2 linked regions of the Homo sapiens genome follow. The protein of the gene in region 2 interacts with the protein of the main gene of each other region in a pairwise test. Each region holds a gene or a part of one and is shown on either strand. Other genes may lie near its edges.

The links.
Region 1: the proteins of ANKRD55 (region 2) and TRIM23 interact in binary tests that used the Homo sapiens proteins (3 or more experiments, as listed by UniProt).

What each region holds. Positions count from the first base shown.
Region 1 is NC_000005.10:65,614,317-65,617,972, forward strand, and holds part of TRIM23 (E3 ubiquitin-protein ligase TRIM23), read right to left. Parts: intron 1-3,656.
Region 2 is NC_000005.10:56,104,249-56,107,904, reverse strand, and holds part of ANKRD55 (ankyrin repeat domain-containing protein 55), read left to right. Parts: intron 1-3,656.

The DNA.
Region 1 (3,656 bases), 9.5 Mb from region 2:
TAATGTCTAAATTTTTAAAATTCAAATTTTCCCCATTTTTAATACCAAAATAATTGCTTTGTTAATGCTCTCTTAAAAAACAGAAGAATCCTTCAGCCTTCCAAGTAGAAACACACTTTAAAATTTATTATTTTTTGGCCAGGTGCTTTGGCCCACGCCTGTAATCCCAGCAGTTTGGGAGGCTGAGGCGGACAGATCACTTAAGGCCAGGAGTTCAAGACCAGCCCAGTCAACATGGTGAAATCCCGTCTCTACTAAAAATACAAAAATTAGCCAGGTGTGGCGTCAGGCGCCCATAATCCCAGCCACTCAGGAGGCTGAGGGACGAGAATTGCTTGAACCCGGGAGGTGGAGGTTGCAGTGAGCCAAGATCACACCACTGCACTCCAATCTGGATGACAGAGCAAGACTCTATCTCAAAAAAAAAAAAAAAAAATCTAAATACACATAAAAAAAATTATGGTGGTAAAGGCTGCACAACAATATGAATGTACTTAATGTCCCTAAACTTAGAAATGGTTAAAACGGCAAATTTTATGTTATACATATATTTTGCCACAGTTTAAAAAAATTATTTAAATCTCTTTTACTTTTTTTTTGAGACAGAGTCTTGCTATGTTGCCCAGGCTGGTGTGCAGTAGCGTGATCTCTGCTCATTGCAATCTCCACCTTCCGGGTTCAAGTGATCCTCGTGCCCCAGCCTCCCAAGTGGCTGGGACTACAGGTGTGTGCCACTATGCCCAGCTGATTTTTTTGTATATTTTGGTAGAGATGGGGTTTCGCCATGCTGGTCAGGCCGGTCTCAAAACTCCTGGCCTAAAGTGATCTGACTGCCTCAGCCTCCCAAAGTGCTGGGATTACAGGTGTGAGCCACCGTGCCCAGCCTATTTCTCTATCATTTAATTTTACAAGTCCTATTTTGTCATTGACTTTTACTATACATGCTAAAACAAGCATTTTCAAATACTTTTTGCAGCAACCTACCTTAAGAAATACATATAACATTGTAACCCAGGACAACATACACACTCTTCCTGAACCTATGAATAAAAGTCAGATCCTTTAGCAGAAGGAATATTTGTTATGGTAAACTCCTATGCAACAAATAACATCTGATATAGCTGCCACCTAATACATATTCATTAAATGAATAAATATATAAAAGGTTGATGGAGTCATTGCCTGCAGGGCCCCCCTTCCTCCTGGCTCTTAAAAAAAAAAAAGCCATTCTGTGTTGTGGTTCTCCCAAAAAAACTGGACTGAACATATCTATCCTCAGCCTTGCCCCTAGAAGGCTTTCTCCTTAATTTTTAACACATATTCTACAACAAGCTGAGTTCTATCTATTTACATAAAGGTTAAGAAGTACACTAAGTGATCATTTAAAAATATAGTCTTGACAATTTTCTAAATATCCAGTCACTATATAATGAATATATACAAATAAACCTCTAGCATTATTACTAGGTAGTGCCTAATATTTATATCACTTAATTCTGTGTCAAAACAACTCTATAATCTCAATGGCTTAACACAACAAAGATTTATTTTTTGCATCATGCAACATCTCAGGGATTAGGGAAGACAAGAGAGACTCTGTTCCCCACTGACCACAAACAGGGACACAGCCTACCGAGCCTCCAACCATCTGGACCACCTCACTGCAGCAAGGAGAAGAATTTACTTTGAAAATCATAAACCTTCTCTTATTAACTTCTACCTGGATGCTAACACTTCACTTCTGCTTACATTTCACTGATCAATGAACATCACACAGTGATGCGTAAGAGGGCAAGGAAGTGTAATTTCACCATATGAGCAGAAGAAAATCAGGAATATTGCTGAATGGTATTAATAACTACTCATATTCTTCTTGGACTAGAGAGAAATTCTGATTCAGGATTCAGAGAAGTCAGAGAGGAGGATGGATGTATTCAGTCTAGTTCCCTGTCATAAATTTCTAGTTTTGTTAAACATTGAGGATAGTAACTCTTCACATTGTGGTATTAATGTAGAGAAGGTAAAGTGCTCTTCAAAAAGGTAGAAGAGCCAGGTGTGGTGGCTCATGCCTGTAATCCCAGCACTTTGGGAGGCTGAGGTGGATCACTTGAGGTCAGGAGTTCGAGACCAGCCAGGCCAACATGGTGAAACCCCATCTCTACTAAAAATACACAAATTAGTCAGGCGTGGTGGCAGGTGCCTGTAATCCCAGCTACTCAGGAGGCTGAGGCAGGAGAATCGCTTGAACCCCAGAGGTGAAGGCTGCAGTGAGCTGAGATCGCGCCACAGCACTCCAGCCTGGGTGACGGAGTAACACTCTGCTTTAAAAAAAAAAAAAAAAAAAAAAGTAGAAGAAAGGTTCTATTCTCTATTTGAAAAACATTACTATTTCTTTAAGCATAGTTTTTTTGTTTGTTTGTCTGAGACCAAGTTTTGCTCTTGTTGCCCAGGCTGGAGGGCAATGGCGTGATCTAGGCTCACTGCAACCTCCATCTCCCAGGCTCAAGCGATTCTCCTGCCTCAGCCTCCCAAGTAGCTGGGATTACAGGCATCCACCACCATGCCTAGCTAATTTTTACATTTTTAGAAGAAAAGGGGTCTCACCATTTTGGCCAGGCTGGCCTTGAACTCCTGACTTCAGGTGATCCACCCATCTTAGCCTTGCAAAGTTCTGGATTACAGGTATGAGCCACCTCACCTGGCCTAAGTATAGTTTTATATAAAGAAATAGTATGATATATGCATATTTCACATAATAAAAGACCAAATAAAAGTACAGAGACTTTCCCAATCCCTATTATTTCTTGGCTACTGGTAAGTTAATGCTATCTATAATGTTATTACTGTCTATTAGTTGTCAGGCAAATAGACTATTTATATACATCAAAGATCACCAAAACCTTAAAAATCCTTTTCTTTCTCCAGAAAATATTTTAAAACCATGTTTCTTAGCATTTCAAAGTCTTCCAGCCTAAAATTATAGGTACTCTTGCTTCCTTTTTTGGTGGATAAATTATTTTGAATGTGTTCCACTTGAAAAATAGTATGAATATATTAAAACTGTCTTAGATAGTGCAACTGACCTGGAAAAAAAATGGCAACCTTAAACTCTTTTGGAGAAAACTCCCTTATCAAAAAGAGTAAACTTACAGAACTTACGTTTGTAAAATAACTGTTCAAATGTTAGTAAATGCTATTATTTCCAAATCTGGTATCTGAAAATAACTTAGTTTGAAATACGTAAAGAAAAGTTTTAAAAGTATACAGAAAACTGCAAAAAAAAGCCACAAACCCTTCAAACTCATTTTAACAGAAAATAAAGAGTAATTATCACAAGCTACAAACACTTCTGTCCTTGATATTAGTAAATAAAAACATGGTGAGACTCAAATGACTTATCTGTATTTTCATTATTGGCTTATTTATTTGTAAAGAAAACATTGTTCTATTGGGTTTATGGCTTCAGGCAAATGATTCACTCTGTGATACACATTCTTATTTATTTGAATCAGGGTAGCACGTTTTTCTCAGGTGTCTTAAAGCTCTTTACAGATAAGTATTGAATATAAACATCTCAGAAGATAAAATAAAATTAGTAACTAAGAGTGAGATAGTTTATAGCTTGAAGATTATTGACCTTAATAGAAACTTAGGCT
Region 2 (3,656 bases):
AAGTGAGGCCCTGTCTCAAAAAAAAAAAAAAAGTTTATTGCTATCACATGAAAGAAGTCTGAAGTAGGCAGTTCCCAGACATTTGGTGGCTCCACAATCATAAGCAACATAGGCTCTTTCCATCTATGTGCCCCGTCACCTAATGTATGGCTTCTCTCCTCGAGGGGCTGATGGAGCAGGAGGAAGGAAGTAGAGAGGGGGAAAAATGCGTGTCCCCATGTGAATCAGCTCCCATTAAGAACTCATCTGGCTTAAGTGCCACACTTCCGCTTGCATCTCATTGGCCTCTAAACTTTGGTCATATATTCACAGCTATCAACAAGGAGTCTTTTAGCTGGCCACGTTGCTATCCCTCCAAAATTGGATTTCTGTTTCTAAGTGAGGGAGGAGATATTAGATGGAGAGTTAGTACATTCTGACACATGTGCCACCCAAAAATTTCCATCTTATTTGAAATAAAAAGAAATTCAATAAACGTGGTTTGGGGATTTGCTCACTTACACAATGAAATAACTAGAAAAATCCTGGGACAGCAGAATAGCAGAAAGGGGAAGGTGAATTTCTCCAATGGAATCTGCCTATATCAAATATTTTTTTCAACCAATTTTTCTGAGTGCTGATTATAACTAGGAGCCATTCTAGGCAACTGAGTCATGATAAGATAAATTTCCCAAGTGTTTTCAGCCTATAAATCAGCTTTAAGGGGTATAGATTTACTAAAATGCTTCTGCAACTGACTTTAAATTGACTTTCTTCTCATGTTTAGATACAGTCATAGGGTTTCAAAAATGGAAAGGAGCTTAGTCATTTGATCAAACATTAAATGATTGCTGAGTGTTTATCACAGTTGATTTATCAAAAGAGAGTGAGGGATTTTTTTTTTTTTTTTTTTTTAGAGAGAGATAGGATCTGTCACCCAGGCTGGAGTACTGTGGCTTGATCATAGCTCACTTCAGCCTCAAACTCCTGGGCTTAAGCAATCCTCCCATCTCAACCTCCCATGTAACTGGAACTACAGACACATCTCCTCCTCTGGCTAATTTTTTTGTCATCATTTTTTTGTAGAGACAAGGGTCTCACTTTGTTACCCAGACTAGTCTAGAACCCCTGGCCTCAAGCAATCCTCCCATCTTGGCCTCCCAAAATGCTGGCATTATAGATATGAGCCACTAAGGCTGGGTGTGGTGGCTCATGCCTGTAATCCCAGCACTTTGGGAGGCCAAGGTAGGCGGATCACCTGAGGTCAGGAGTTCGAGACCAGCCTGGCCAACATAGTGAAACCCCATCTCTACTAAAAATACAAAAATACAAAAATTAGCCAGGTGTGGTGGCGGGCGCCTGTAGTCCCAGCTACTGTGGAGGCTGAGGTGGGAGAATCGCTTGAACTCAGGAGGCAGAGGTTGCAGTGAGCCGAGATCGCACCTGCACTCCAGCCTGGGCGACAGAGCAAGACTATGTCTCAAAAAAAAAAAAAAAAAAAAAAAGCTTTCCTAGCCTTACGGATTTTATTTTTGTGATCATTTTTAACAATAATTGTTTTGAGATCACTGAGGCTTCTGCACTACACTGAAGTGGGTGTTGTCGTTGTTGTTAGTCTAGGAGAGTTGAAACTTTATGTGAAAGTTTAATGTGGTAAAGCAGTTGGATAAATCATCCCACTATAGCACTGACTTGAACTTGGATTGTCCCTTTATCTTTGGATTTCCTCCTTTCCTGCCCTGGGTTTGGTAGAAATAATATGAGTTAGTAGTGCTGCTGTTAAAATTCCAGGCAGCCACTATCCAATGCTTACATCAGCAGCCCTGAACATTTAGCTGTAATGATTATTGCTTAACATTTATTGAGACCTGTCAGAGGTTGGATGCAGCAAGATGGGGGATGAAGCACTTATCCTAGAGACTTGGAATTTGGAGCACGTCAGCTTAATTCATTGCAGGCAGCTTTCAGAGAAAATGGAACAGAAAGCTCTGTGGTATTGTCTGCTAGCCTGGTTATTTATAAGCCGTCACAAGAAAAGTAAAAAAGTGTGCATTTCCTTTCTCCTGCAAAAGAGAGCTTCCTTCTCTAGAATTTTCTAGACTATCTCAGCCAACAATGCACTCTTCTGGCTGGTTAGGTCTGATCCTGTGATCCTTCTGTCTAAACCCATCAAACGTTTTGCATCTTTTCAGGACAAAGGCCAGGGTTCTAAACTGGGCAAACAAAGCCCTCACGGCATGGTCAGACCTCACGGCATGGTCATGCTCAGCTTCTGCACCGCCCATCTCAAATCCCCACCCCTACCTCTTCAGAAGTTCCTTGAATATGTCTCAGTTTCTTGACAATTTCATACCTTTCCATTCTATGACATCTTGGCCCTTGTTATTATTTTGGGTTCTCTCCACTGTGTGCTTGACCGATTCCTACAATCTTTTAAGAACCAGCTCAAAACTCACCTTCTATAATATGTGAAGGTCACCCTGATCTCTGTAGGAAATATGGCTCTTTCTTAGGACTGCTAATAAGAACAGCTCCACCTGGCCGGGCACGGTGGCTCACGCCTGTAATCCCAACACTTTGGGAGGCTGAGACGGGTGGATCACCTGAGGTCAGGAGTTCAAGATCAGCCTGGCCAACATGGTGAAACCCCATCTCTACTAAAAATACAAAAATTAGCCTGGTGTGGTGGCGCACGCCTGTAGTTCCAGCTACTCAGGAGGCTGAGGCAGGAGAATTGCTGGAACCCGGGAGGCAGAGGTTGCCGTGAGCCACGATGGCACTACTGCATTCCATCCTGAGAAACAGAGTGAGACACTGTCTCCAAAAAAAAAAAAAAAAAAGAATAGCTCCACCTTGCTGACCTACACACCTACACACTTCACTTTCCACAACATTGCAGGAGAGATTTTATCCTCTTTATAACTGAAGAAATTGAGACAGAGAGGTTAGCTCATCTGCCTAAGGTCACAGAGCTAGCTAGGAAGTGGCAGAGGAGATACTGGAACAAGGTCTATGGGATCCCAGAAAACCTCAACTTCTCTGGACCATTCCTTCCTCTGCAATGCCCTCACAAACTCTATCACAGCACTACTCATGGAGCTTCAAAACCATATGTTTACCTGTCTTTCCTCCCACATCAATTGCAATCCCCTCCTGAACGCCTTGCTTTCTCCTCTTTGTACTCTAGGGTCTGGAATATGATGAGTGCTCAATGGATGATTGCTGAATTATCTATTTATTATTGTTATTATCATTATTATTATTATTAATCCTGCAGTCACCTCGGGTTCCATCATGTAACTGTGAAAACATTTCCTATCCTTTTTTTCTAGGACAGTGGTCCTTGACCCTGTCCCCAAAGCTGAACACTCCCTGGAGTTGCCTGCAGCACCAGACAGCTTTGGGCTATGCACGGCTCCACCCTGTCCCTGAAAACTGAGCAAAATGCCAACATGGAATAAAGTTTAACTCCCCTTCATCTCCGAGTCACTGCTGTAGCCCTTCTTTGCCCACTGCTCCCATCTGCTTAGAGGAGGCAGAATAATAGAAGTTACAGGGTCAGCCCTATAGGGTTGAAGTCTAGGCTGTGTCCCTTCCTAGCGTGTGACTTGAGCACTTTTAGAACTCCTCCAAGTCACAAGGTCCTCATTTGTAAAATGAGGATGATAATAGAATGT